Linked DNA regions of Homo sapiens: region 1 is linked to region 2. The links come from fine-mapping of genetic effects on gene expression. A gene starts in region 2. The other region holds a variant in brackets. All regions are shown on one strand. Distances are from middle to middle.

What was found.
Region 1: its variant is fine-mapped to the expression of FOCAD in whole blood (TOPMed, PIP 0.98).

What each region holds. Positions count from the first base shown.
Region 1 is chr9:20,645,105-20,661,508 of GRCh38, forward strand. It overlaps a transcript of FOCAD not described here. Among named protein-coding and RNA genes, the nearest start is that of MLLT3, 31 kb to the left of the region's middle. RefSeq lists an enhancer at 13,582-13,641. The variant TA/T (reference allele first, on the strand shown) is at 9,556.
Region 2 is chr9:20,672,419-20,688,386 of GRCh38, forward strand. FOCAD (focadhesin) reads left to right here and starts at 11,841. Exons shown (of 44, transcript NM_001375567.1): 1 at 11,841-11,875. It overlaps FOCAD-AS1 (FOCAD antisense RNA 1), which reads right to left and starts at 12,332. Exons shown (of 2, transcript NR_121601.1): 1 at 12,150-12,332; 2 at 10,884-11,123. RefSeq lists a silencer at 11,444-12,143 and an enhancer at 11,543-12,283.

The DNA.
Region 1 (16,404 bases), 27 kb before region 2:
TTTGTCAGATATATTGAAATATTTTTCTACTTTATAATTTACCTTTCATGTTTTGATGGCTTCTGTTGTGTAGACTCGAATTTTTCATGTAGTCAAATATCCGATGTTGATTCCTTTGTGGTTTAGGCCATTGATTTTATACTTAGACAATTATTCCTTCAGCTCAAGAACAAGTAAATAGTTCCCTAAATAAACTCCTAGTTTTTTAACCTGCACTTTGGCAAACTTTTGCCATATTTCAGGCACATGTTTTAGTAGTCATTGGTTTGTCTTACAGTGAACACTTTTCACATTTAATATCTGGAATTTATTTTAGTATATATTGCAAGTTGACAATTTAACTTAAGTTTTCACAGTTAACCAACGTATTGAATGATTTTTCCTTTACATATTGCAATGTGATGTCAACTTTATTATTTACATCAGTTTTATAAGTAAGAGATAGTATATATTTCTGGCTATTTATTTTGTTTCAAAGATATGCTCATAAACATTTACACTAGTAATACTGTGTTTTATGTGCTGTTTTAATGTCTGATGGGGCAAGTTCTTGAATTAGGACTCTTTTGGTTAAAAGAAAGAAAAACTTATTTAAGTTACTTTAAGAAAAAGGGAGAATATCCATGGACCCTGTGCCCAGAGGCAAGGATCTCTTTGACAAGGAGAGAGAGCTACAGAGCCACTCCAATTGCATCCTTTTAGCTGGGAGAATGCTTAATAGCTGTTCACTCTTCCCCTCACCAATTTTCCTTTTTTTTTTTTTAATTTCCTCACTCTTTTCTATTTTTTTTTAAGCTAATCAACTGTAGAATCACCGTTTCAAGCTCCAAAAGGTATCCTATTTGGATTTTGATTGGAGTTGCATTAAACCTATAAATTAATTTGAGAAGAACTGACATCTTTATAATAGTCATTGCTACCCAGGAACGTGTGAGGACTTCCCATTTATTCAAGTCTTCTTTTATGACCTTAAGTAAAATTTTGTAGTTTTACTTATATAGTTCCTGTCCATTTCTTGTTATGGTTATTCTGAAGTATTTATATCATTCATTTCTAAGCCAATTACAATCTGACTTCTATCTATTAATCTTAATTCTTTTGTTACTAAAAAAAAGAGGGGGGAAGTAGCGGAAATTATTTGAAGGACATTAAGGAAGCTCATAGAATTAAGTGAATAGAATTAAGATTCAAAAAAAGGTGGGGCAGATATTTCTCTTTCACAGGAGTGCATGCGCCTGCTCTCTCTCTCCATTGCTCATGTTTCATCTCTACATATCTCTGTATATTTACTTCATTCTGATATTTCCATCATTCAGAAGGAAAAAAAGATGTTTTCTCATTAGTTGCAGACAGAAAAATTCCATGCAAATGTTCAGATTGGTCTAGCTTGGGTCATACGCCTTCTTTTTTTTTTTTTTTTTTTTTTTTTAATGAGACAGAGTCTCACTATGTCTCCAAGGCTGGAGTGCAGTGGTGTGATCTCGGCTCACTGCAACCTCCAGTTCCCAGGTTCAAATGATTCTCCTGCCTTGGCCTCCCAAGTAGCCGGGACCACAGGTGCACGCCATCACACCCAGCTAAATTTTTTGTATTTTTAGTAGAGAAGGGGTTTTACCATGTTGGTCAGGCTGATCTCGAACTCCTGACCTCAAGTTATTCATCCACTTCAGCCTCTTAAAGGCTGGGATTACAGGCATGAGCCACTGTGCCCAGCCATATGCCTACTATTGAATGCTGCCTATCTCTACAGCCAGGAAGATGTGATGCTATAATTAGCACAACCTGAATCATGTGCCTGCTCCTGTGGACAGAGAAGCAGGATTTGTTGCCAGATGTAGAAGAGAAAGGCATTCCGGGCAGACAATAGCCACGGCATCCACTGACATTGTTGCTGTCAAATTTGCCTGTGATCACCTTTTTGCTAATTACAATGAATACTTTTCAACTCTTGGAATTATTTTAGTCTCTGAAGACTTTGATGCTGTTGACAACTTCTTGAAATTCCCTTCTCCTTTTGTTTTAGTAATGAATTTTCTTGTGTTTTTTCCTCTCTTTAACTCCTGCTGTTCATTTTTATTCCCTTTTTTAGAACCTTTTTTCTTTTACTCACCCTTGTTATTGGTTTTATCCAGGCTTCCATCTTTGATTTATTTATCTTCTCCTTCTAGAGTACATTATTCTGGATTATCTCATCTAATCCTATGGCTTCAATTATAACCTGCCCATGGATGATTCTCAAATCTCTTCCTCCAGGCCAGCTCTCACTTTGCGTGTTTAGGCTCAGCCTCTAGTAATAAGGAACTCACTGATTTAGCTACAAGGAAAAATGGGGGGTTGAACTATCTCTTGGCCACAGGAGACACTGAACATATTGTTAATACTCTAGAAACTGTGTCCTATAAAATAGTTTATTTTTAAATCTCTGCTATTCTTGAACACTTTGTTGTGCTTTCAAAGGAAGAATGTTTTCTCATTATTTGTACTTCATTTCTAATGATCTGATAGAAGCCAGAACAAGGCATAATAATTAGAAAAAAATGCTGGAATGGGTATCTAACTCAGGATTACGGTGGGGATCCAGTGAGATAATTGATACATGTAAAAAGTATTTGATAAGTCATAAACAGCCATATATTACCAATTTGGACCAAACAAGGTACCCTCTCTCTCTAAGAGATCCTGAGTGATTTCATTAGTCATTTAAATTTAATTTGATGCACAATGAATAGTCATAGTATATAAAATACATCTATTTCAACCCCAAAGCCAGCATCATGTTAATGGGAAACATCTGGAGAAGTCCCATTAAAATCAGGAGCTAGGTGAAAATATCTGTCACCTCTATTTGACACTATTTTGGAGACAGTAGCCATCACAAGAAAGGAGACAGAAATGAGAAGTATAAAAAGTGGAAAGGAAGAGGGCAAAATTATAATTATTTGTAAATATTACTATTGCATTTCTGAAAAACTTGAGATAACTGAAAAATTACTACAGATGATAAGACAATTCAGTAAGTTGGCTAAGTATAAAATTAGCATACGGAAATGAATAGTCAATTCATTAACGTGTATTAACTGTTAGTTTAGAAGATATAATGGACAAAAAGATTCCATTTACAAAAGCAATGAAAATGTAGAAAATCTATTTGAAAAAAAAACAAAAACATTAAGCTGCAACTAAAGTCTCAAAAGAACTTTGAACAAATGGAAAGACATAGCATATTCTTGAACAGGAAGACATTATCACACACAGATTGATCCAATAAAAAGACAAGATGTTTTTATTTCAGCCAATCAAATTCTAAAGCTTATATTTAAAAATAACAAGCAATAGTATCTAGGAAAATGTAGGAAAAGCCTAGAGTGTGAAGGTCAACTAGCTTTTTTATATCTTAAAAAGAATCAGTGGAATAAATGAGAATATTCAGAAACAGAATTTAGTAAATTATAAAATCAGCCTTTTGAATCAGTGGCAAAAAAATGATTTATATAAAAATACTATTAGGACTACCAATAGACATCTAGAAAATATAAGAAAAATAAATTTGGATCTGTATCTCCTAACTTACCTCAAAACAAATTCAAGTTGGCTCAAATATTTACATGTAAATAAATGAAAACATAAGAGAGCTAGAAGAAAGCTCTAAAGACTTCCTTTTAAAAAAATTGGGGGATGGGAAAGCTATTTCTAAATATGTCATAACATTCAGAAGCCATAACAGAAATGATTTAAAAATTTGATTGCATAAAAAATAAAAATAAAGTTCTGCAAGATAAACAAAAAAGTCAAAAGACAAATGACAAACTTGGAAAAATATTCGCTAGTTATAACATAGGCAGGTGCTAGTCTTTCTAATACAGAGAGAGCATTTGAAAATCAGTAAGAAAATGACCAAGCTGGGCATGGTGGCTCACACTTGTAATCCCAGCACTTTGGGAGGCCGAGGCGGGTGGATCACCTGATATTAGGAGTTCGAGACCAACCTGGCCAACATGGTGAAACCCCATCTCTACTAAAAATACAAAAAATTAGCCAGGTGTGGTGGCAGACGCCTGTAATCCCAGCTACTCGGGAGGCTGAGACAGGAGAATTGCTTGAACCTGGGAGGCATAAGTTGCAGTCAGCCAAGGTTATGCCATTGCACTCCAGACTGGGCAACAAGAGTGAAACTCTGTCAAAAAAAGAAAGAAAGAGAGAGAGAGAGAGACAGAAGGAAAGAAAGAAAGAAAGAAAGAAAGAAAGAAAGAAAGAAAGAAAGAAAGAAAGAAAGAAAGAAAAAGAGAAAGAAAGAAAGGACCTTTAGATATATAAAATGATGCTCAGTCTTATTCACAAAAACAGAAATGCAAATTCCAATGGCTGGAATATCATTTTAAAGTTATTGTATTAGCAAAGATATAAAGGTTTGATTAGACAGTGTGTTCTCATACATTCCTAGTTGAGTGTAAGTTGGCAATTTGCCATTATCTCACAGAATTAACAATGCAACTCAACAGCTTTCCTCCTGGGAATTTATCCGAGACTTTATTCACTCATGTATGAAATAGATTACTCATTATAGCATTGTTTATAATACCAAAAGATTTCACCCATAGAGTGTATACATAATAATGTATCCCTACATTGGGATACAGTAGCTATGGGGATCATCTTTATGTGATACAGGATGATCTCCCTGATCTAATGTTATTCAGAAAAAGCAAGGTGCGGTAAGTATAGTATACTATCTTTTGTTTAAACACAGGATGTAAAATAATGTAAATTGTGTTTTATGTATAAATTATCTTCAGAAAGATACATAAAAACTCATATTAGGTGCCTCTAGAAAAGGAAACAGTATAACTGGATTATAGCCATAGAGAAGAGCTTTCTTACTTTGTACCCCTTTTACACTTTCTGTTTCATGTGAATGTATATAATTCTAAAGTGTAAATATAATTAAATTTTAAAACATTACCCCATTTTCTCATTTATACAGCAGTTATTTGCTTATTATAGAAATGATAAAATAACTCTAAGGCTGCAACCTAAATAATGATTTTGTCTGAAGCAAAATATGAGCTTGGTGCTACCTCATAAATGGCAGCACAGTACAAAAGTCCTGGAGGGCAGAAAGTGGGAGGACTGGGAGGTAGAACAGAAGTCACACTTAAGGCATTAGTCTCCCATTTGGGAACTCAAACACATAACGTGGATTTTCCAATACCAGACTTAGTTATCTTCAAAAGTTGTTAAACTAATGTCCCGATGTAACCAATATCTCTTTGAGATATAAGCATGAAACAGTTCTATGGCTTCCAAAAACTACCACCACTGTGCTCAGTTGAAATGCTCTTTGTCATTGACTGGCTTTCCTCATCAATGTCTTATCCCATAATGATTAGTTACTCTCAAATATTTATTTATTTATTTATTTATTTATTTATTTATTTATTTATTTATTTGAGACAGGCTGTCACTCTGTCACCCAGGTTGGAGTGCAGTGGCACAACTGTAGCTCACTGCAGCCTCAATCTCCCAGGCTCAAGTGATCCGCCTGCCTAAGCCCCCATTGACCATCCCGCAGCTCCCCACCTCAACCTGAGTAGCTGAGAGTATAGACACGTGCCACCACACCCAGCTGATTTTTGTATTTTTTGTAGAGATGGAGCTTTGCCATGTTGCCCAGGCTGGTCTTGAACTCCTGGCCTCAAACTATCCTCACGTCTAGGCCACCCAAAATATTGGAATTACAGGTGGGAGCCACCGTGCCTGGCCTACTCTCAATTATTAAAGTCATCCCCTTTAGGCTGTAAAGTGCTGTTTGCTTTAGTTTATCTTACAATATTTACAATTCTTTTTGTACCACATGACTCAACATGTACAAAGTGCAAAAAGGCTCTATAAATTAGCCAGGTGTTTTGGCACATGCCTGTAATCCCAGCTACCCAGGAGGCTGAGGCAAGAGAATCACTTGAACCTGGGAGGTGGAGTTTGCAGTGAGCCTGGATTGTGCCACTGTACTCCAGCCTGGGCAGTAGAGCGAGACTCCATCTCAAAAAAATAAACAAAAAAAAGCCTCTATGGTGAAGAGACTTCTTCCCATCCTTTACTCACAGATCTTTCCTTTACTCTTGGTTATGAAGGTTATGCAGTGCACAACTCTAGAAGGCTCGATACACTTTGCATTTATAACAGTATTTCTCAACATTTGATGCAATTAAAAAATAATTGAGAGTCCTCTTTAAAGGTAGATTATGATTCAGTAAGTCTGGGATAGAAGCTGAGATTCTGCATTTCCAAAAAACTCTCAGGTAATGCTGATGCTGCTGGTCTGGAGACCACACCTTTGAGTAGCAAGAGCCTATGTAATTGATGCCTCTGGAAGGTTGTAATTCCATCATGTGTGGCCTTACATGGAAGCCCTACGTTGTTTGCCTCCCCCAAGGTTTGCAAGTTTTATTTTATTTTATTTTATTTTATTTATTTTATTTATAATGGAGATGAGGTTTCTTTCACTATGTTGTCCAGGGTGGTCTCAAACTCCTGGGCTTAAACAATCCTCCTACCTCAGCTTCCTGAGTAACTGGGACTACAGGCATGAGCCACCATACCCAGCTCCCAAATTTTCAATATTCTTCCAAACATGTTCTACGTGTATGTAAGCATATACATACATAAATATATATTTAATTATATACACATATGATAGCATATTACATACATTGTACTACATTTTGTTCTCCACCCATTACCCTTCCCCAACTTAATATGACTTGGAGCCTGTTCCATACTGGTAAGTGTAGAGCTGCCTTGTCTTTTTAGTGATAAAATATTATTACATTGCACAGTGTAACTGTCCTTTAGGAAATGAGTTTTCAAATGGCAGGAAAGCAGGCGACCCCTCTGACACGCTTGGTCTCAGCTCTGCCTCCCTCTCCCTCTGACACTTGTCTTCTTGTTCCAGCAGCATCTGGCCTGACACATCTATCCCACCTCTCCCCCATTGAAGAGATAAAAACGGGAAGACATGGTTACACCACAGTTCTGTACTTCCCTGAACAGATGACCAAGATTAGTCAAACCTTGTATGTAAGTGTCTGGTGCTACAGCCGGCAGTTTACTGACTTAATATATTGCATCTGTTTTCAGCTATGGGGTCCAAGAATATATAAAAGATACATCTAGGCCCTGTTCACCACCATTTTACATATACTAGTTATGATCCATTTGGCATACCTCTCTCCATTTTTTTTTTAAGATAGGATCTTGCTCTGTTTCCCAAGCTGGAGTGCAGTAGCATGATTCCAGCTCACTGCAACCTTGAACTCCTGGGCTCAAGTGATCCTCCCATCTCAGCCTGGAGTAGATAGGACTATACCCAGATAATTTTTTTTAATTATTATTTTTTGTAGATGTGAAGATCTCACTGTGTTGCCCAGGCTCATCGTGTAATCCCGGCTTCAAGCTATCCTCCCACCTTGACTTTCCAAACTTTTGGGATTACAGGCATGAATCATTGCACATGGCCATGTTATATTTTATATTCACCATTATTATATTATAATTATGTTATAATTATAATATTTTATATATATAATATATATTTATATAAAATATATAATATTATATATATAATTATTTTTATAATTATATATAAAATATAATTATTTTTATAATTATATATAAAATATAATTATTTTTATAATTATATATAAAATATAATTATATTACAATTCACCATTTTATATTCAGTTATTATTACTATTGGTGGGGTGAAAGAAGAACTATATATTTCTTATGTTCTTTCAAGAACCTTTACTAATCTATTTGTTAGTAATAGCATTGATAAATTATTACAGAGAGATGGATAAATCATGTGCCAATGGGCTAAAATATGGATAGGGCCAGATTCTAGAATGGCTCTATTAGTAGTAAAATTCTGGTATTCAGAAAATCCTTTAACTTTGCAGTGCCCTAGTATAGAACCATTAGCTGAGAAACAAAAGTATACAGAGAAAAGAGTTAAGATTACTAAGGTACAGTATTATTTCTCATTCATTATTACCTTTTAATATATTAACTCTGGAAGTTTTTTCAATCTGATGGTTTATCATTTTGGCTGATTAGAAGCATACCTTGGACATATTACAGGTTCAGTTCCAGATCACTGCAATAAATATCAGAATAAAACAAGTTACAAGAATTTTTTTTCCCAGTGCATGTAAAAGTTATATTTACATTATACTGGAGTCTATTGAGTTTGTAACAGTATTATGTCTAAAAAAAAGTACTTACCTTAATTAAAAACACTTTATTGCTATTAATAAAACACAATATTTATTAATATATTACTAATAAAAATGCTAATAATCATCTGAGTCTTCATTGAGTTGTAATCTTTTTGCTGGAGGAGGGTCTTGCCTCAACGTTGATGGCTGCTGACTGATCCGGGTGGTGGTTGCTGAAGGTTGGGGTGGCTGCAGAAATATCTGAAAACAAGACAACAATGAAGTTTGCTGCATCAATTAACTCTTTCTTTTGCAAAAGATTTCTCTGTAGCATGTGATGCTGTTTGATAGCATTTTACCCACAGCAGAACTTCTTTAGAAATTGGGGCCAATCCTCTCAAACCCTGCTTTCTTTGCTCATCCATAAGAAGCAACTCCTCATCTATTCCAGTTCTATCATGAGATTACAGCAGTTCAGTCATCTTTAGGCTCCACTTTCTTTTTTTTTTTTTTTTTTTTGAGACATAATCTCACTCTGTCGCCCAGGCTGGAGTGCAGTGGCAAGATCTCGGCTCACTGTAACCTCCGCCTCCTGGGTTCAAGCGATTCTCCTGCCTCAGCCTGCTGAGTAGCTGGAACTACAGGCGTGTGCCATCACGCCCGGATAATTTTTTGTATTTTTAGTAGAGACGGGGTTTCACCGTGTTAGCCAGGATGGTCTAGATCTCCTGACCTCGTGATCCGCCCACCTCGGCCTCCCGAAGTGCTGGGATTACAGGTGTGAGCCACCCGACCCTAGGCTCCACTTCTAATTATAGTTATCTTGCTATTTCTGCCACATCTGCAGTGATTTCCTCTACTGAAATCTTGAACCCCTCAAAGTCACCCATGAAGGTTGGAATCAACTTTTTCTAAATTGTTCATGTTGATATTTTGACCTCTTCCCATGAGTCACAAATGTTCTTAATGGCATATATAATGGTTAACCCCTTCCAGAAGGTTTTCAATTTACTTTGCCGAGATCCACCAGACAAATTACTATCTATGGCAGCTGTAGCTTTACAATAACGATAGTAATAATAAAAGAGTTGAAAACTGAAATTACTTCTTGATCCGTGGGCTGCGGAATAGATGTCGTGTTAGCAGGCATAATAGTAACATTCATCTCCTTGTACATCTCCATCACAGCTCTTGTGTAACCAGGTACATTGTCAGTGAGGATGAAAGGAATCTTTTTTTTTTTTTTTTTCCTGAGCAGTAAGTCTTTACACGGGGCTTAAAATATTCGGTAAACCATGCTATAAACAGAAGTGCTGTCATTCAGGCTTTGTGATTTCACTTA[TA/T]AAACAGTGGCAGAATGGATTTAGCATCATTTTTAAGGGCCCTAAAATTTTCAGAATAGTAAGTATGCATTGGTTTCAAATGAAAGCCATCAGCCCCTAACAAGAGGGTCAACCTGTCTTTTGAAGCTTTGAAGCAAGGCACTGACTTCTCCTCTTTAGCTATAAAATTTCTAGATGGCATATTCTTTCAATGGAAAGGTGTTTCATCTACACTGAAAATATGTTGTTTAGTGTTCCTCCTTCATCAGTGATCTCAGCTAGATCTGGATAATTTGCTGCAACTTTTACATCAGCACTTGCAGCTTCACTTTGCACTTTTATGTTTTGAAGATGACTTCCTTCTTTAAACTTCATGAACCAATCTGCTAGCTTCTAAATTTTCTTCTGCACCTTCCTCATGTGTCTCAGCCTTCATAGAATTGAAGAGAGTTAGAGCCTTGCTCTGGATTAGGTTTTGGCTTTAGAGAATGCTGTGGCTGGTTTGATTTTATATCCTGACCGCCAAAACTTTCTCCGTATCAGGAACGAGGCTGTTTTGCTTTCTTAGCATTCATGTGTTCACTGGAGTAGCTCTTTTTAATTTTCCTCAATAACTTTCCCTTTGCATTCACAATTTGGCTAACTGATGCAAGAGGCCTAGCTTTCAGCCTACCATGGCTTTTGAGATGCTTAATCGTTTTTAGCTTTTGATTGCTAGTGAGGGATGAGTGACTCTTCTTTTCACTTGAACGTTTAGAAGTCTTAGGGTTATTGGTCTAATTTCAATATTGTTATTTCTCAGGGAATAAGGAGGCCTGAACAAAGGGAGAGAGATGGGGGAATGTCTGATCTGTGGAAGCGTGGAACAATCAGGACACACACAACATTTCTCAATTAAATTCAAGTCTTCTAGGGTGTGGTTTGTGGTGCACCAATGCAATTGCAAGAGTAACATCAAAGATCACTAATCACAGATAGCCATAAGAGATAAGACATTTTTTATTGTGTCTATTAAATTCTTCTCTCTTTTTTTCTTTATTAGTCTTGCTAGCGGTCTATCAATTTTGTTGATCCTTTCAAAAAACCAGCTCCTGGAGTCATGACTTTTTTGAAGGGTTTTTTGTGTCTCTATTTCCTTCAGTTCTGCTCTGATTTTAGTTATTTCTTGCCTTCTGCTAGATTTTGAATGTGTTTGCTCTTGCCTTTCTAGTTCTTTTAATTGTGATGTTAGGGTGTCAATTTTAGATCTTTCCTGCTTTCTCTTGTGGGCATTTAGTGCTATAAATTTCCCTCTACACACTGCTTTGAATGTGTCCCAGAGATTCTGGTATGTTGTGTCTTTGTTCTCGTTGTTTTCAAAGAACATCTTTATTTCTGCCTTCATTTTGTTATGTACCCAGTAGTCATTCAGGAGCAGGTTGTTCAGTTTCCATGTAGTTGAGCGGTTTTGAGTGAGATTCTTAATCCTGAGTTCTAGTTTGATTGCACTGTGGTCTGAGAGATAGTTTGTTATAATTTCTGTTCTTTTACATTTGCTGAGGAGAGCTTTACTTCCAAGTATGTGGTCAATTTTGGAATAGGTGTGGTGTGGTGCTGAAAAAAATGTATATTCTGTTGATTTGGGGTGGAGAGTTCTGTAGATGTCTATTAGGTCTGCTTGGTGCAAAGCTGAGTTCAATTCCTGGGTATCCTTGTTGACTTTCTGTCTCGTTGATCTGTCTAATGTTGACAGTGGGGTGTTAAAGTCTCCCATTATTATTGTGTGGGAGTCTAAGTCTCTTTGTAGGTCACTCAGGACTTGCTTTATGCATCTTGGTGCTCCTGTATTGGGTGTATATATATTTAGGATAGTTAGCTCTTCTTGTTGAATTGATCCCTTTACCATTATGTAATGGCCTTCTTTGTCTCTTTTGATCTTTGTTGGTTTAAAGTCTGTTTTATCAGAGACTAGTATTGCAACCCCTGCCTTTTTTTGTTTTCCATTTGCTTGGTAGAGCTTCCTCCATCCTTTTATTTTGAGCCTATGTGTGTCTCTGCACGTGAGATGGGTTTCCTGAATACAGCACACTGATGGGTCTTGACTGTTTATCCAATTTGCCAGTCTGTGTCTTTTAATTGGAGCATTTAGTCCATTTACATTTAAAGTTAATAGCGTTATGTGTGAATTTGATCCTGTCATTATGATGTTAGGTGGTTATTCTGCTCGTTAGTTGATGCAGTTTCTTCCTAGTCTTGATGGTCTTTATATTTTGGCATGATTTTGCAGCGGCTGGTACCGGTTGTTCCTTTCCATGTTTAGCGCTTCCTTCAGGAGCTCTTTTAGGGCAGGCCTGGTGGTGACAAAATCTCTCAGCATTTGCTTGTCTGTAAAGTATTTTGTTTCTCCTTCGCTTATGAAGCTTAGTTTGGCTGGATATGAAATTCTGGGTTGAAAATTCTTTCCTTTAAGAATGTTGAATATTGGCCCCCACTCTCTTCTGGCTTGTAGGGTTTCTGCCGAGAGATCCGCTGTTAGTCTGATGGGCCTCCCTTTGAGGGTAACCTGACCTTTCTCTCTGGCTGCCCTTAACATTTTTTCCTTCATTTCAACTTTGGTGAATCTGACAATTATGTGTCTTGGAGTTGCTCTTCTCGAGGAGTATCTTTGTGGCGTTCTCTGTATTTCCTGAATCTGAACGTTGGCCTGCCTTGCTAGATTGGGGAAGTTCTCCTGGATAATATCCTGCAGAGTGTTTTCCAACTTGGTTCCATTCTCCCCATCACTTTCAGGTACACCAATCAGACGTAGATTTGGTCTTTTCACATAGTCCCATATTTCTTGGAGGCTTTGCTCATTTCTTTTTATTCTTTTTTCTCTAAACTTCCCTTCTCGCTTCATTTCATTCATTTCATCTTCCATTGCTGATACCCTTTCTTCCAGTTGATGGCATCGGCTCCTGAGGCTTCTGCATTCTTCACGTAGTTCTCGAGCCTTGGTTTTCAGCTCCATCAGCTCCTTTAAGCACTTCTCTGTATTGGTTATTCTAGTTATACATTCTTCTAAATTTTTTTCAAAGTTTTCAACTTCTTTGCCTTTGGTTTGAATGTCCTCCCGTAGCTCAGAGTAATTTGATCGTCTGAAGCCTTCTTCTCTCAGCTCATCAAAGTCATTCTCCATCCAGGTTTGTTCCGTTGCTGGTGAGGAACTGCGTTCCTTTGGAGGAGGAGAGGCGCTCTGCTTTTTAGAGTTTCCCGTTTTTCTGTTCTGTTTTTTCCCCATCTTTGTGGTTTTATCTACTTTTGGTCTTTGATGATGGTGATGTACAGATGGGTTTTTGGTGTGGATGTCCTTTCTGTTTGTTAGTTTTCCTTCTAACAGACAGGACCCTCAGCTGCAGGTCTGTTGGAATACCCTGCCATGTGAGGTGTCAGTGTGCCCCTGCTGGGGGGTGCCTCCCAGTTAGGCTGCTCAGGGGTCAGGGGTCAGGGACCCACTTGAGGAGGCAGTCTGCCCGTTCTCAGATCTCCAGCTGCGTGGTGGGAGAACCACTGCTCTCTTCAAAGCTGTCAGACAGGGACACTTAAGTCTGCAGAGGTTACTGCTGTCTTTTTGTTTGTCTGTGCCCTGCCCCCAGAGGTGGAGCTTACAGAGGCAGGCAGGCCTCCTTGAGCTGTGGTGGGCTCCGCCCAGTTCGAGCTTCCCGGCTGCTTTGTTTACCTAATCAAGCCTGGGCAATGGCGGGCGCCCCTCCCGCAGCCTCGCTGCCGCCTTGCAGGTTGATCTCAGACTGCTGTGCTAGCAATCAGTGAGACTCCGTGGGCGTAGGACTCTCCAAGCCAGGTGCGGAATATAATCTCGTGGTGCGCCGTTTTTTAAGCCCGTCGGAAAAGCGCAGTATTCGGGTGGGAGTGACCCGATTTTCTAGGTGCCGTCTGTCACCCCTTTCTTTGACTCGGAAAGGGAACTCCCTGACCCCTTGCGCTTCCCAGGTGAGGCAATGCCTCGCCCTGCTTCGGCTCGCGCACGGTGCATGCACCCACTGACCTGCGCCCACTGTCTGGCACTCCCTAGTGAGATGAACTCGGTATCTCAGATGGAAATGCAGAAATCACCGTCTTCTCCATCGCTCACGCTGGGAGCTGTAGACCGGAGCTGTTCCTATTCGGCCATCTTTGCTCCTCCCTGCAACTAACTCCATTCTTAATTGGTAGGTGATTCTTATGGGTTGAATTGTTTTCCCCCAAATTCCTATGCTGAAGTTCCAACCCCTAGTACCTCAGAATGTGACTGTATTTGGAAATAGGGCCTTTAAAGAGGTGATTAAGTGACAGGGTGTGGTGGCTCACGCCTAGCACTTTGGGAGGCTGAGGTGGGTGATTGCCTGAGCTCAGGAGTTCTAGACCAGCCTAGCCAGCATGGCAAAACCCCATTTCTACTAAAAATTCAAAAAATTAGCTGGCTGTGGTGGTGTGCGCCTGTAGTCCCAGCTACTTGGCAGGCTGAGGAAGGATAATCACTTAAACCTGGGGGGCGGAGGTTTCAGTGAGCCAAGATGGCACCACTGCCCTCCAGCCTAGGGAACAGAGTGAGACTCTGCTCCCCTCCCCCCGCCCCACACAAAAAAATTTAAAAAGAAAGTTAGCCTGGCATGGTGGTGTGTGCCTGTAGTTCCAGCTAATTCGGAGGCTGAGGCATGAGAATCGCCTGAACATGGGAGGAGGAGGTTGCAGTGAGTCAAGATGGCGCCACTGCACTCCAGCCTGAGTGACAGAGTGACTCCATCTAAAAAAAAAGAGAAAGAAAGGAGAAAGAAAGAAAGAAAGACAGACAGACAGAAAGAAAAAGAGGTGATTAAGATATAAGAAGAGGAAGTTTGGCCAAAGAGACACCCAGGATGTATGCACATAGAGGAAAGATCATGGGAGGATATGGTGAGAAAGTGGTCATCTGCATGTCAAGGAGCTAGGCCTCGGGAGAAAGCAGGCCTGCTAACACTTTGATGTTGGATTTCCCTGCATCCAGAGCTGGAAGAAAATAAATTTCTGTTGTCTAAGTCACCCAACCTGTGATACTTTGTTATGGCAGCTGTAGCAAACTAATGTAGTAATAGTCATTGAAAGATTTTATGCAGGGAAGCAGTCATTTTGATGGCATTGTGAAAGCATTGGAAAGCAGTGAGATGCAGGTGGGCAGATCAGTTAGGATATTGCATCAGTCTAGGCAAGAGATGGGAAGGGCTTGACTAAGGCAGTGACCATCGGAGTGGTGCAATGAGATATGAGAGATAGCTCAGAGGTAAAAATTAATGGAGAGAGAGTGGATAAGTTGGCAACATTTTCCAGGTTTCTTGCTCAAGTGGCTGGGTGAATAATATGCCATCAAGGCCTGAAGTAAGAAATATAGGAAGATAATTCAGTTTTGTTTTCAAGATAATGAGTTTGGTTTTTTGAGATGTTTTCTTGGAGTACCTGTGGGACATCCTTATGGACAGGTTCAGTGGTAGCTAAATATCCAGATGTGGAGACGAGGAGATAAGAGAGGCTACAGACAATAACTTGTGAGCCATCAGCAATAATAACAGCAATAATAGTAGTTATGGTTAACACTTAACCTAGGGCTTATCAGGCGCCAAGCAATATTCTGAACCCTTTGGATGTCACATATCCTTACAATGACCTATGGTGTAGAAACTACTGTTATTCCCATTTTAAAGATGAGGAAATTGAGGCAGAGAAAAAATACCCAAAGTTACTCTCAGCCAGGAAGTGTAGAGTCAGGCTATGAGCCCATACAGTCTGGTTTTAGGGCATGTATCTTGACAAGGTGATTTGCCTCTTCATGTAGTTGGTAGTTAAAATTATGGAAAAATATTCAGATCCCTTAGAAAGAAGATTTCTATAGGGTGAGAAGAAAAGAAGTCAGTATAAAATCTGAGGACATTTCAATACCAATATGTAGAGATCAGCAGAAAAAGAAGATCCGAAGAGACAGCAACAGTTTGGTTAGAATGATGGAAGGAAGACCAAGATGAGAAGTGGCCAACAGTATCAATGCCACAGAGATACCAAGTAACAGACTCAGAAAAGTGTTCACTGGATGTGAAAAGTAGGAGAAAGCTGGTAGCCCCAGCAAGGGTCATTTTATTTGGGTTTGAGGGAGAAGGATCAGAAGTCAGATCATAGTGACTGGAGAAGTTAGAAAAAGAGCATACAGAAATAAAAGAAGAATTATGGCAGAGAAGGATATGAGAGGCAGACAGTCAAAGAGAAAGAGAGAGAGAGAGAGCAATTTGGGCAAAAATTATGGGGACATTCCATGACAAGACTGTGATTAAAATGGAGTGGTTGAACATGTTCATAGACCACGGGAAAGGAGTCAGCAGAAGAGGGGAGGTTTAAGACAGAGAGGAATAATTTGAGAAGGGATGTTTTAGAGAAATTAGAGAAGTAGAATTAAGAGCACAGCTGGAGAGCTAAGGAGGCTGTGGAGATGTTTGGCAATGGCAACTGAAAATGATGGCATTCACTCTGATGTTCTTGGTCTTCTCTGAGAAGTACGGAAGCAAAGTTATCTGAAAAATGTGGTAGAGGAGAATGGGTTGGGAGACAACCAAAGACTAGTAAAAGGACTGAGAAGTAGCATGAAGGGCTCAATAGACAGGAGAAACATTGAAATTGTAGTGTCAGCACCACTTAAAGATGTATGATAGTCTCCAATGTGCTGAGTTCTGTAGGAGGAAGAGTAGACAACATGTATTATAAGATTGTCTCAAGACTGGGTTTTGCAGCAGGCTGTGATAGAAAAACCTGACTTGGTTGTGAGGAGTGGGGAAAGGGAGGTGTTAAAAATGAGGGAATTTAAATGGTTGGGAGGCAGTTGTTCACTTGAT
Region 2 (15,968 bases):
ATCAATAAGTTATAACTTAAAAATAAATTATTATTATTATTATTATTTTTGAGATGGAGTCTCACTCTGTCGCCCAGGCTGGAGTGCAGTGGCGCAATCTAGGCTCACTGCAAGCTCTGCCTCCCGGGCTCACGCCATTCTCCTGCCTCAGACTCCAGAGTAGCTGGGACAACAGGTGCCCGCCACCACGCCCAGCTAATTTTTGTATTTTTAGTAGAGACAGGGTCTCGCCACATTGGCCGGGCTGGTCTTGAAATCCTGACCTTGGGTGATCCACCCACCTTGGCCTCTCAAAGTGTTAGGATTACAGGCGTGAGCCACTGCGCCCGGCCAAAAATAAATTATTTTTAAAAATAACCAAAGAACCACAGGAAAAACTTATGTTACTTAAAATATTATTGTTTAGCTGGTTAAACAATCTAGGTCACCAACAGGACTCACCAAACTTCAGTTCCATGGATTTAAATCTATTTACAAGTTGCTTTTATTTAAATAAACTAATAGTTTCTAATACATAACTTATTGAAGTAAACTGATAATTAGGCATCAATTTGTATTCATTTTGGAAGCCAATGGACATTTTTAGCAGTACCAGCAGTAAAGATACTCAGATTTTATTCCCATTGCTTGGAGTATGCAGTGGCAATGAATGTCTGAAAACCACTCCAGAATGGTAGGGGGATAAATTGTATTTTGGGGAAGATTTTGGCCAGTATAGACAGAAATGGAAGAGGAGGCCTAGTTACTCTTGTTTGTTTTTACCCTTGGTTTTTTCTATTTTTTGACTATTACAAATAATGCTGCTATGAACATTTTAATACAAGCTTTTATGTGGGTTTATGTTTTAATTTCTCTAGGATATATACATAGGATTGGAATTGCTAGGTCATACGGAACTCTATGCTTAACACTTTGAGGAACTGTTGAACTGTTTTTCCATAACAGTGCACCATTTTTACATTTCCATCGACAATGTGTAAGGGTTCTAATTTCTCTGCATCGGCATCATTTATTGTCTTTTTTATTATAACTATCCTGGTAGTGGTATCTAACTGTGGCTTTGATTTGCATTCTCCTGGGGGTTATGATATTGAGCATCTTTTCATTTATTTACTAGCTACTTGTATATCTACTTTGAAGAAATATCTATACATTTTTATTTAATTATACTTAATTAATTATTATTATTTTTTTGAGACAGGGTCTCACTCTGTCACCTAGGCTGGAGTGCAGTGGCGTGATGGCGTGATCTCGGCTCATTGCAACCTCTGCCTCCCAGGCTCAAGCAGTCCTCCCACCTCAGCCTCCCAGGTAGCTGGGACTACACGTGCGTGCCACACGTGGTGTCTCACCATGTTGCCGAGGCTGGTCTTGAACCCCTGAGCTCAAGCGATCTGCCCACCTGGGCCTCTCCAAGTGCTTGGATTACAGGCGTGAGCCACCATGCCCGACTCCTAATTAATAAAATTCTTTAATTAGATTGTTTTTTAATTATCAAGTTGTAAAAGTTTTTCTACATTCCTCTTTACTCTTAATTAGTTGAAAATTTGTCAATTGTTCTTTAAGGTAAAAAGGCTAAATCAAGACCTTATGCTACCAGTTTGGATAAGAAGCGAGGCACTGGGTCTATCTGTAGTGGTATGTTGCAGTCAGTTTGTCACAAGAGCCAATTGTTAAATTTCAGGAACTTTGCAAACTACTTGTTAAACACAGTCCTTATTAAAAAGCAAATTATATCAACTTACAATTAAATATCTTATATTAGTATTAGAAATAAATATATTAGATGTTCTAAGCTTATTACTTCTGAATTATTTTTCTACATTTTATTATTATTTATGCTATTGAGGTTATTTATGCTATTGTCTCTATGGTGGAAATATTATACAATTATGTGTAAGTGTACACCTCTTCCCAACTCCATATGGAAATTGACCATGTGGGAGTACTGTATTTATACCATGGAAGTTGGCAAACACTACACATCAGCTTCTCCCCTATCTCTTTCCACCAAGAGCTGCTAATTAAACATCTGTCAGCGCACCACTGGACAATTAGGCCTGGATATTATAAAGATGTTCCAAAGGCCTAATTCTTGACAGAGAATGTAAGCAGAAGAGAATTTTTTAAGACCCCTAGCAACCCTTGCTGAGAGCACATCTTTGAAGTCCAGGCTGTGGTGCCACTTTGGAACAACTCTCATGAAGTTGCATCAAAAGATACTGGTCAGCTTTGCCTGCTAAGTTGGAGAAAGTAGGCCATGTGTTCTTTGAATGTCTGGAGGACGATGATGATTTTATTTGACTTTGCTCTGTATAATCAGTGTTTAGCATGGCGTTGAGCTGATACTATTTACTCAGTAATATTTGTTGAATAAATGATAGCTGTGCTTTTCTTCTGCCCCATGGTTATAAGGACTGAAATTTAAGAAGCCTGATTGAATAGATTCCTTCAAAATTTCCCCCCAATACCTACTTAATAAGTTCCTGGGATAAGAGGTTGTCTCAGAATCCAGGGTGAGATGGGGTAGAGTTGGGGCAGAACTATACCTATGGAAGCAGCAAGAGAACAAATTACTTCTGTGGTACATATTCTGCAAAAATGCAAGAGCCACAGTCAAGGGCAATTGACTTCTTCCTTGTAAGACCCTCTTTTTCTGGTTAAAAAAGTTTTTCTTCTATAAATCTAGTTCTCTAAGTCTCATAGGCCAGCCCTGAACCACATGGCCATGACTTGCTGTAAGGAAGTCTGGGAAAGTATCTGGCAAAGGGGAAGAAGAGAGCCATGGTTGGCTTAGGTTAGGGGTAGGCAAACTATAGTCTGTGGGTCAAAACTGGATGATCACCTAATTTTAGAATGTTTTCAAGCTAAGAATAGTTTTTACATAAAAATATATACCAGAGCATAGCCATCATGTCAAAACAAGAAAAGAAGAGAAAAGTGAACTTTTTGTGTCATGCTTTTAAGGCACAGTGGATTGTGGATTATTTTGTTATCAAATTGGATGACAAAGTATGTGTTTATTGTGCAGTGATACTATACCTGTACTAAAAGATAATATACATCAATATTCCCAGATTCATCACAATATTCCCAACTCACAGGGAGACAATGGTCAGAAAATGTGAAAATTTACAATGGAAAACGTCATCACAGCAGAATTTCTTCACAAAAATAACAAAAGAGTTGAAACCAAAGTAATTTTCTGAGTGGCTTCTTTGTTGGCCAAGCAAAGAAAGCTGTTTACTGATGATGAGTTAATTAAATCATGTTTGATCACAGCAGCTGAAAAAATTTTTTCCCAAGAAAATAAACTTGTTTCAGACGATTAACCTTTCAGTGAGATCTGTTGTTTGAAGAGTTGAAGACACTGGGAGCAACATCAATAGTCATGTACAAAACAAGGTAGATGATTTTGAGTGGTTTTCCTTGGCTCTTGATGAGTTGACAGGTATTACCAATAGTGCTCAGTTGCTTATTCAAGGAGTCAACGCTGAGTTTAAAGTCACTGAAGAATTAGCCTCTATGAATCGTCTGCGTAGAACAACTATGGGCAAATATATTTTCAAAGATGTTGGGAAAACATTAATAAAACCTGAAGTAGAATCTGTTAAGATGCCTTATAACTTATGGTGATAAAAATGTGTATGGAGAAGAAAAAGCTTAGTTGGACAAATTAATAAAGCTTGTGAAAATGTGAGAGACTTAAAGCCCATTGTTACTTACTATGCTGTTCATCAGCAGGTAATTTGCAGAAAGTGTTTGAATCTATTGTGTGTTTCTGACCCAGAAGTTCCAATGGTGAACTTCATTTACTCTGGTGGACTTAATGATCAATTCTGCAAACTTTTGTCAAAAATAGAAGCTGAATATCCCGATTTGCCCTATCACACAGCAGTTTTATGGCTTAGCAGCGGTAAAGTTTTGTTGCAATTTTTAAAACTCAGGCCTGAGACTTCTGGAATGAGAAGAACCTCCCTCAATTACTGTTATTGAACATGAGTGGCTTTGAAAATTAGCTTGTGTGGCAGACTTCATCATGTTTCTCAATATAAAATTACAAGGCAAACAGAGCATATGTCCAAAACTCACATTATGGTAAAGTCATTTTAACAAAAACTAATGCTGTTTCAATCACAAGTAATGTCAACCTGCTTAATATAGTTCCTGTGCTGTCAAAGTTTTAAAAAGAAGCAAGAGCTCCATTCCCACAAACATTTGCAGGAGATATATTTTCCAAAATCAAACTAAAGTTCCAATAGCATTTTTGGATTTCAATGCAAGTGGAAAGGAAATTTTCAAACATCAAAATCCATTTATTAAAGAAGACACAGATAAATGGAAAGACATCCTCTGTTCATGGATTGGAAGAATACCATTACAATGTTCATACCACACAACATGATCTACAGATTCAATACAATCCCTAAAAAATTTTGATAATACTATTTAAGAAATAGAAAAAAACAACATAAAATTTATAACAAACCACAAAAGGCCCTGAATAGCCAAAGCAATCTTGAACAAGAAGAACAAAGCTGGAGGTATCATACTTCTTGATTTCAAAGTACATGACAATGCTACACTAATCAAAACAGTATGGTACTGGCATAAAAATATACAGATAGGCCAATGGAACAGAGCAGAGAGCCCACGAATAAATCTATGTATCTATGGTCAACTGATCTTAAACAATAACACACAAGGATCGACTCTTTATTAGATGGTGTTGGGAAAACTGGATATTCACATGTAGGAGAATGAAATTGGACCCTTACCTCACCCCATGTGATAAAGTCAACTAAAACAGATTAAATATTCAAACATAAGATCTAAAACTGTAAAATTACTAGAAGCAAAGATAGGAAGAAAGCTTCTTGACCTTGTTCTGAGCAATGATTTTTTGAATATGACCCCAAAAGCACAGGCAACGAAAGCAAAAATAGACAGGTGGGATTGCATCAAACCAAAAAGCTTTTGCACAGCAAAGGAAACAACAGAATTAAGAGACAACTTACAGAATGAGAGAAATATTTGCCAACTATTTATGTGATAAAGGGTTAATATAGAAAATACAAAGAATTCAGCTTAATAGCAAAAAAACCAAATAACCTTATTAAAAAATGGACTAAGGACCTGATAGACATTTCTCCAAAGAAGACATACAAATGGCCAATAGATATAGGAAAAAATGCTCAACATCAGTAATCATCATACAAATTTAAAACTACAATAAGATATAACCTCAAACCTGTTAGAAAAGGTAACAAGTGTTAAGGATGTGGAGAAAAGGGAACACTTACATGCTGTTGGTGGAAATGTAAATTGGCAGAGCCATGATAGAAAACCGTGTGGAGGTTTCTCAAAATACTAAAAAATAGAACTATATCTGATACTGCAATCCCACTTTTGAGTATACCTCCAAAGGAAATGAACCTGGCATCCCAAAGAGATATCTGCACTTTTGTTCACTGCAGCATTATTCACAGTAGTCAAGATATGGAAACAACCTGTTTGTCAAAAGATGATTGGATAAAGAAAATGTATGTATGTGTGTGTGTATATGAAGATATATTGAAGTTTTTATATATCCTTTGCTTTATTGAATCCTCTCAGCACCTCCAATAATTAAAAACATATCAGGAAGAACAAAAAGAGACTTGAGGCAAATTTACTCTCTGGTCCATTTCAGAAAGAAATTGCTGGCTTAGATCAAACATATTCTATCCCTTGGTGCTGGGAACATTACTGAGTCACATAAAAATTTGGATTATTTTTAGCATGGGGATTACATTGAAATAATGTATGTCAATATTAGTAAGGATCTGATATTGTCTTGTTATTAAGAAAAGTGGTTGTAGTTATTAGAGATACATGGCTACATCATTCTTATTGCCCAAGCTGACCTTGAGCAAACTACCAAGCATGTGAATGAGGCCATCCTAGACCAGCCAAGCTTTAAGCTGACTGCAGACATGTAAAGAGATCCAGGAGGGACCAGCAAAACCAGCCTAAATATGAATTGCCTAGGAAACCACAGGATCCTGAGAATGAATAATTGTTTGTGATTGTAAGCCACTAAGTTCTGGGGTGGTGTGTTACACAGCAATCTCTATTATAGGTGACCAAGGTAAGTGTGTCAGATATTCTCTTTTTGCCCCTTCACAGTGCTGCAGGAGGCCGACCTATAACTGCAGCACAGGCTTCCCTTGCTTCAGGAGATCAAGAGAGAGGAGAATGAGGGAAGTGAAGATAGTAATTCCCTGAACCCCCTCCCTGTAGCATCACTGTGGACTGGCTGTGTTACGTGACCAAATGCCCCAAACACAGCTTCTTTGTGTTTTGTAACTACACTCTCTCCTTTCTGCTTTCAGCTTAGGCGTGATTTGGGGGCCCCAATGTTACTGCGTCTCCCTTGTGATCTTTTTAATCCCTGCCCATACCTCTGTTTATAGTCTTTTATTAAACTCTTCAATGTTTCCTAGTTTGATTGTACCATCTGTTTCTTGCTGGGACCCTGACTGATAGAGTAGGCCTTATCCAGAAGGTAACATCTCAGCAAAGACTTGAATGATCTGATGGAATGAGTCACAAAGATATCTGGGGAGAAATGCCAAGATCTTGCAGCAGCCAGGAGGCCGGGTGAGTGAGCTGGGCAGGAGTGTAGAAGACAAGGTCAAAGGGGCAACAGACAGTCTGTGTATGTGTGTGTGTGTGTGTGTGTGTGTGTGTGTGTGTGTGTGTGTGTGTGTGTTGGGGATGGAGGTGTGTGGTGCAGGGGAGGGAGATCATGTATGGCCCTGTTGGCTTTTGTAAGAACTTTCGCTTTTACTTAGAAAGAAATGGGGAGCCATTGGAGACTCGTATATCTAATTAAATCTAATAGATTGCTTTCTGTGATGTGCTGACACTGGAGCTCTGTGATTTAGTACTGAATTTCTCCTCCCAGTCTTCGTGCCTGATGATGAATGGGTGGGCGTGTTGAGCCAGCCCAGCATGCTTGGGCCTGAGTTCAAGGCTTTGTGTCTCTCTCCTGATGCTGTGGGTGACATGACCTTCCTTACAGTACAGGATTCAGACTACAGTGTCTTTTTTTTGTTAGCATATTCTTTTCAGCTCTGTTAATGACTTGGGAGTGGGCACATTTTTCTTACTCTCTTTTTTTTTGTTGTTGTTAAAGTCAGTAGGCCCTTCTACACTGACTTCAAAATGTGTGCTTATCTAAAGGGTCTTATACAATAGAGAACTGCTTAACTACTTCAGTGGAAATAATACAAGGAGTTGAACAGAAATACTATCTGCCTGCCTACCTCTTAAAGACGGTAGTTTGTCTTAAATATTTAAAAGGCAGAGTTTTGCATGTACAATGTCTAGAAAATACAGATTTGAAAGGTGTTTTAATCCTTCAAGTGAAATTTGCGTCTGAGCTGGGCCTTCTGGAATTAAGTCTAGCGCACCCTCCACAGGTTACATGAATAAAGGTGATTCTCTTGTAACCCCTATGAAGGACCACCCTCTCTCTGCTGTTTCTCAGAAATATTCCTCAGGCTGAAAGTCAGTGAACCAGCTGTAGAGAGCTACAAACATCTGCATCAGATGTAGGTTCGCCCAACTAAGTTAAACTGATCTTTCCTAAGTTATAGCTCAATCAAAATTTAACTATAAATTGTAGCTACATTCCTTCAGGCTCCATTCTTTGCTTTCAGCTCAGAAGGAAAGTAAGCTATTTAGTTAACGTGATTAATTAGGCAGGCAGAATCTTTTTCCTCCTGGCTAAGAATATAGGTGGACTATTAGAACCTGTTCTAATGTTTTTTGTCCGGCCTTCACCTTAATTTCTTTTACAATTTGTTGTTATTGTCCGGGTGCGATGGCTCATGCCTGTAATCCCAGCACTTTGGGAGGCTGAGGTGAGCCCACCACGAGGTCAAGAGATAGAGACCATCCTGGCCCACATGGTGTAACCCCGTCTCTACCAAAAATACAAAAATTAGCTGGGCATGGTGGCGCACGCCTGTAGTCCCAGCTACTTGGGAGGCTGAGGCAGGAGAATTGCTTGAACCCAGGAGGTGGAGGTTGCAAGCTGAGATTGCGTCATTGCACTCCAGCCTGGCAACAGAGCAAGACTCTGTCTCAAAAAAAAATTTAAATTTTAAAAATTTATATCCCAGTGCATAAAGCAAGCTATTCAATAGGTATGCAGTAGAAAGAGGATAGGACTAGGAGTCAGGGAACCAGGGTTTTAGTCCTTCTAAAACATATTAGCAGCTAGCCATGGTGGCTTACACCTATAATCCCAGCATTTTGGGAGGCCGAGGCGGGAGGATAACTTGAGGCCAGGAGTTCAAGACCAGCCTGGACAGCATAGTGAGACTTCATTTCTATATATACATTTATTTATTAGAATGTAGTAGTAGAATATATGTGTATGTTAGCCGAACACTGTGGTGTGTGCCTGCAGACCCAGCTACTTGGAAAGCTGAGGTGGGAGGATTGCTTGAGCTCAGGAGGTGAGGCTGCAGTGAGCTATGATCGTGTCACTGTACCCCAGCTTGTGTGACAAAGTAAGATCCTGCCTCAAACCAAAACAAAGCCAAAAACAAAAAACAGCCCTGCCCAACCACAGCCCCCCACAAAAAGCAATTAGTCATATGACATTGAAGAATTGAAGATGAACCTGTATCCTTTTAGAATTTTAGTTCCCTTCTGTGTAATTGGCTTGATTAGATTAAATCAGTGAAGCGTAAAAAAATTTTGAGTTCCAACATAAGACTTTAAGCTTACTAAAATAAAATTCCCAACAAGTATAACCTATTATCATTTCATATGAGAAAACTTCTATTTTCTTTTTTTAATAGAGATGGGGCGGGGGCCCTCACTGTTGCCCTGGATGGTCTTGAACTCCTGGCCTCAAGTTATCCTCCCACTTGGCCTCCCAAAGTGCTGGGATTATAGGTGTGAGCCATCATGCCCGGCCTGAGAGGGTACTTTTAACATTAAAACAAAACAAAAGAACAAAGCATAATCTCAGGAAAAGGACAGTCCTTTAAATTGAATAAATTTATTTTTATGAAAACTTAATACATTGTCCATATTTTTTAACTTCAGAATTTGTCAGAGAAAACTTTGTCATGAACTGGCAACTTCTGAGATCCTTTCTAGTTCTAAAAGCCTATCTCTCTAGTCTTGTCAAAATAAATCTGGTGGCTGCTGACTTGGTCTCCAGAATGAGCTGGCTCCATAAGGCTCTAGAATACGTCTTTCATCTTGGTATCTCCTGTGCCTACCACAGTGCCTGGTATAGCATTAGATTAAATAAATTAAAAGGTGAAATGATCCCTGCTGAATTGCAGTTCCTGTATGGAAGGAGTATACCCCAGAAGGAGGGGGTGAGCCCATGGACTTCCAGCTTAACCCTAGATCTGCAGTAAAAGCAGTCAAATCGGTTCTAGGCTCCAAGTTTAATGGTCAAGTTTCTCAATCCTGCCCAAAATCTGAATCTAGGATAGGTGTCTGCTGTGGCCTACATGTTTGTGTCCCCCAAAGTTAATGTGTTGAAGCCTAAACTCCAATGCAACAGGATTAAGAGGTGGGGCCATTGGGAGGTGATTAGGTTATGAGGACTCCTGTCGTGCCCTTATAAAAGACGCTTCAGGTAATCTATTTCCCCTTCTATCCTGTGATGATACACAGAAGGCACCATCCATGAGGAATGGAACCTCACCATATTCCAAATCTGCTGGCACCTTGCTTGGACTTCCCGGCTTGCAGAACTGTGAACAATAAATTTTTATTGTTTATAAATTACCCAGTCTAAGATACTTTGTTATAGCAGCCTGAACATAATAAGACGGTGTCAAAAGTAGACTCAATATCATTCTTTAAATGGGCATTTCCCTGTGTGTTCCTAAAACCAGGCTTTCTACAACAGAGGCAGTACGTTTACTCATTGAGCACCAGGGTGCTTGGATTCAAGTTTTGGCCTGGCCATTAGGTAGGTGCATGACCTTGGTCAAGATGCTTCACTTGCTGTACTTCAGGTTCCTTATTTATAAAATGTGGGTAATAACTGTAACTGCCTCATAAAGTTGTTCTGTGGATTAAATAAATTTATATACTTAGAACAGCGCTGTTTACAGAGTTATGTGTTTAATTATAATTTTGACTAATGAGCCTCAAGAAATATAGGAATAGAAGAAAAAATATTAAAATAGTCCTAAAAGAAATACTGGTGCATTTGGAAGACTGAAAGAGAGTATCATCAAAGTCCATAAAAAGGGAATTATAAGCCTTATAAAACTCCTTTGAAGCAAAGGATAACAGAGGTTGAATAACTTTAAGTAGGTTCAATATTGATTGATTGAATGATTGATTGTGACAGTCTCACTCCATCAGAGGCTGGAGTGCAGTGGCGCCACCTCGGCTCACTGCAACCTCCGCCTCCCGGGTTCAAGCGATTCTCCTGCCTCAGCCTCCTGAGTAGAGTAGCCGTGACTGCAGGCGCGCAACCCCACGCCGGGCTAATTTTTGTATGTTTTTTTTAGTAGAGATGGGGTTTCACCACGTTGCCTAGGCTGGTCTTGAACTCCGCCCTCCTCGGCCTCCCAAAGTGCTGGGATTACAGGTGTGAGCCCCCCCACCTGGCCCCAAGATTAATTTAGATAAATTCTTAGAGGGTGAATGCATAGTTGGTTATTGGGAAAACTGTTAACGGTCTGTGATACATAATTACTTTTCTGAGGTGATGGGGAACCAAATTCTTCCTACAAATGAGAAACAGAACTTCTTGTCTACACATTAAAATGACTTTGGAAACTTAGAAAAATATCAATGTCAAGATCTGGCAGCAGACCTTTTTCAACCAAGTGATGAGGCCCAGGCACTTGTTTTTTTATTTTTATTTTTTCCTAAGGGTGCCCCAGGGTTTAGAAACAACTAAGTCAGATATTTTTAGAGTAATTTGTCTTAACTCTTTCATCTTGCGTAAAATTTCCATTCTGTCATCCACAACCGGAATTCCACTCCGTCATACCAGTCTCTCCTCGTTTTTTTCTGCTGGCTCTTTTCAGCGTGTTTCATCGTGGCTGCTGTCTGTCTGTTACAGCCTTCTCACGTGGGAGCCCCTGCCCCGCCCCACGAGAAAATACATGTTTATCATTCAGTAAGTATTGCGCAAAATCGTAACAGAATAATTACTCGCGCCAATTCCCCCCAGATTAGATCAGCAGAAACACTTGGGCTAGAACTACCTCAGGACTATCTAACAAGTGGATATACCACAGTGGCGTGGAGAGCTGCAGTGTTATGTGTTGGCCAAATGAAGTAAAGACACCAAGTAGCTATTAGGCGAAGAACGAAGCGTCTTCGCGGCAAGTCGGCTGTCTGCTTTAAATTTTCTGAATCCTTAATGTTATCAGTATTATTTATTTCCCCCGAGAAACAAAATCTCCAAATACCAAGAAGCTGTTCTGTATTGCCAAAAGCTGCATAGGGGCAGGCTGCCAACAGGACTACCCGGGCACGCTGCAGTGGCATCTCTAGGCAGTTTCCTTTAATCTGATTTTCCTTGGGCTAACTCCTCACTGCGGTGCTGCTCCACAGCCAGCCCCCGCGCGCAGCCCTCCCCGCACCAGCTCGGCTGCAGAGCGCGGGTCCGCCGCCCACGCCGCCTTTCAACCGCAGTGCGCGGCCCGGGCCTTAGACGCGCGTGCGCGCGAGCCGGGGAGGGCGGGCCCCAGCCGGAGGAGGCGGAACAGGGCCTCGCGATATGCAGCCCATTGGCTCTCTCCTGCAGTCCCCGCCCCCGGGCGTTCGAGGCGGCGGGGCGGGCCACGTCAGGCAGCCGGCGCTGGGCTGAGCTTGTGGCAGAAGGGAGGTAAGCCGTGCGGGGCGGCGGGCTGCCACCGCTGCACCCCTGCTCGGGAGCCGCCGGGTCGCGCCGCCTGCGGCCCGGTCGGCTTGCATGGAGGGCGGCTGAGGCCCTGCGGGGCTGGGGCTGAGCTGGGAGACGGGGCAGTGGAGCATGTGGCGGCAGGGCCGCGTCGCGGCGAGGGGCAGCCGGGAGGGGGCTTTTTGCCCTCGTCCGGTCCTGCTGGGGCTCTCAGCTTCTGGAGGACTAGGCCTTCTGAGGTTACGGAGCTCCGAGATACCTGGGCAGGGCTGGCTGTGGTGACTGCGGTGGGACTTAGTGGGATCTCGACTCGGAAGCCGGTCGGCGCGATCCTTGCATACTTAGCTGCAGCAGGTTGCAGTCGTCCCACTCTCCTTCGACCGGTTCCCTAGTTGGGGGCAGAGCAGGAGATTCTGGCCGCGTCCTGCCTGGCCTGGGGTGACTGTCTCCTTCTCATTCCCGGTGACTCACTCAGATCATGTCCACTTATAATGCAAAGGCTTATGGGTGAGCAGGGCCTGTTTTCAGTCTCCTAGTTCTCTGGCTCCGTCCGCACTTGCGGCAATTACTTGAAGAAAGAGTATGTTAGATGTATGTTTTGAAATTTTCGCAGCAGCTAACGCGTGGAGACGTGCAGTTATGTTGCATTTACCCTTCATGAGTTTTAGTTTCAGCTGTGGCGTCCTGATATCTCAGTGTGGTTCCTGAATTTGGAGCTTTTGAAATGAATGAAATCCTGCCAATTTCATGCAGTCATTCATTCATACATTCCAAACTTTTTTGATGGATGCCTTAATGGTCAGCCTCATACCAGGTATTAAAATCGGCATTTCCTGCGTTTTATTCCAGTTTATATGTTAGTTTTATTGTCTAGATTTGAGTTGGAAATTTTTTTTTTTTTTGTTATTTTCAGGTTCTAGTATCCCTGAAACCATCGTGGCTCTGAGGGTGTAATCCTGATAACTGTATCAGTAATGACTCCAGGTTTCAGTGGCCTATCTGTAAGAAGAGGAATGGGATTAGTATAATTTTGAGATTTTCCAGGAGAGGAGGGTAGATGGCATGTTTCCTGAACTGTGTTAACAGGAAGTAACTATTTTAAAAACACAGGATGCATTTTATGATTATGTTTTACTGTGTCAACGAACATTGTATCTGTCCACATTCACTTTTTGACTACCAAGCAAGTGCATGTTTACAATTTTGATTCACATCCAATTCCTGCGTAGAAAGCACTGTGACTCATCTGAATTTTGAAATGAAGTAATCATGAGCTTTTTAATGTTACATACAAAGGTATGATATTGAAACAATTGCATAAAAATGCAATTTTCAAAGCATTTTCACTTGCTTTTATAGATTAGTGGAAGCTAAAACCTCTGCCTTGATTATTTGCTTACTTAATCAATGTTAGGTAGTTACCATCTCTTGGCTAATGTTTATCAATATTATATCTATTTTAACATTTGTTTCATTAACCCCAAATTTACTGGATTTTAACTGATTGTTGTCTCCAGTTGACGCCTGATAACCAAAAGGTTATCAGGAGGAGCTGGAGGAGGCGGAACACAGCCTCGCGCCCTGTAATAAATAGTTTGAAATCAAAATTTTCATGGACGTATAACCAGAGTTTTTCATTTGTTGATTGATTGATGGTGCTTACCGGTAAATCGTTTGGCCTTTTTCCCCGTTTAAAATGATTTATGAAACAGTCTGAGACATAATATTCTTAGCTTCATGATACTTTTGGGATATTGTCCACAAGTGATTAGTTGAATTAAATTGTTAATATCACTATTAGGAGTTTGGAAAATTTAAGAAAATATAACTTCTTAAAATTTTGCATTTGCTATTTTTTTGTTTGTTTGGAGACAGGGTCACTCTGTCGCCCAGGCTGGAGTGCAGTGCTGCGATCTCGGCTCACTGCAACCTCCGCCTCCCAGGTTCAAGTGATTCTTCTGCCTCAGCCTCCTAAGTAGCTGGGATTACAGGCGCATGCCACCACACCCAGCTAATTTTTGTATTTTTAGTAGAGACGGAGTTTCACCATGTTGGCCAGGCTGGTCTCGAAATCCTGACCTCAAGTGATCCCTCCGCGTTGGTGTTACATCTTTCAGTTCTAGAAATGGACCTGATCAAGATTGCAAGGTTAATGGGGAAAATTCAAGAGCTGAGGACATTAACCTTCTAGCGGGAAAAAACCACAATGAGAAATAATAACTATATTTGGAGGAAGTGTAAGGAAATAATAGTTTAAGGATTATTAGTCTATAACAAATCTTGATCTTAATCAGTATTTCTTGATGTATAACAAAGAACTTGGTTTAAGCACAAAAAGAAAATTAGGGTGATAATTTAAATTTTGATCAAGTGGGTAGTAAGTATTTCTTTAGGAGATGAGAAATCTATAGATCTAGAGATGCATGGTATAATAAAGTATGGTATACTTATATGAGTATAAGTCTGTGATTCACAATTAGTAATAGATTGATGGAGGTTTTGTTACTATTTCCACATGATAAGAAACAAGATTTGCTAAGCTGATAGGACAAGGGATATTTGTGAATTTCCTCCATGTAAATGATTTGAAACAACAAAGTTTTAAGTGATGTGGAAGAGCCCATCTATTTTCAAACAATGGATTGAAATGTAGTTTTTGTAACCCTCTAAGTACTTCTGGCCTCATAGTTTTTTTTTTTTTTCCCCCTACTCAGGTCATATTGAAAGTAATAAAATTGTGTTTATGATTTTAAAAGTTTATATTGGCTTTCATTTAATTAGTCTGAGTTACTTTAGTTTTATATATTTTGAAGATGTTCCAAAACCCTTGACTTTAAATACTGTATAGCTTTCCATTGTTCATGAAAGAAAACATTTCTTTAGGCCAAAGGAAATTGAGAATCCAACTTGCATAGATAGTCAGTTTATTACTATTATTTAAAGATTTATCTTTTTACTTGCCCGGGGACCAATGAAGCATCCACTGAAGCTCCTAAACTGGAGAAGGTATCTTCTAATCTCCTTTTGGTCAGATGAGTTCTTGCTAATTTGGCTGATACATATGTTGAACAAATGTAATACAGTAATTGTGGGTGTTGTAACTGTAGTTTTATGAAGTTTTTTTGGTTGCCAGGGTGTATCTTTCCCTTCTCTCTTGACAAACCTTTCTATTTGGCCTACCTGCTTTCATAATTTATTCTTAAGTTCTACTCTATTTCCCAATCATTGCACATGTTGGTTTATGTAACCAAACCTGATTTTAGTATATGCTATTAGGACATACACGTGGAGAAGAATGGAGGAAACTTTTTATTAAATGTTTTTAATTGTTGAAACACTTAAGTAAATGTGATTTTTAAAGACTCATAGTTATTAAAGGTATTGTATTCATTATTTTTTATTTATTCCTTCATTCAGCAAAGACAGCAACTACTTTGGTGCTAGGTCCTTAACTTATCTTTAAGGAACTTACAGTATTGCATGGACTTCATAAACAACACCAAAATACAATGGGATAAACATTATAATTAGTCGTTCACATAGTATAGTGGGGGATAGAGAAAACTGTGTGCAAGGTTTGAGGAGATTCAGAGAAGGCTTTATGGAGGAATTTTCATCTGAATTGAAGTTTGAAAGTGAGTAGGAATTAGTTGGTGAGGTTAGAGGATAAGGCATTCTGGGCACAAGAAAGCAGTGAGGACAAATAGATAGGTTAGAAACGGGACATAGACCCTTAATGTGTTAAGATAGAGAATAGATCAACTTTAAAAAGTAAACAAGGGTAAATAATGAAAGTTCTCTTCCACACCGTGTTAGCCATTTTGAGCTTTAATCTGGAGGCTATGTTGATCCATGAGTAATAGATTTTAAGTGGAAGAAAGTTAACATCAGTTTCATGAGGCAATGTGAGGAATGAATTGTAGTGGGGTAAGGCAGACATTTGCATTACATGTGACAGAACTCCGAAAATGCAGTGCTGCTGGAGAGAAGAGGATGAATTCCAGATATATTAAGGTGATTGAGTTAGTGGCCAGATGGATGTAGGGGATGAAGGAGTGATGGAGTCAAGGATACCTCC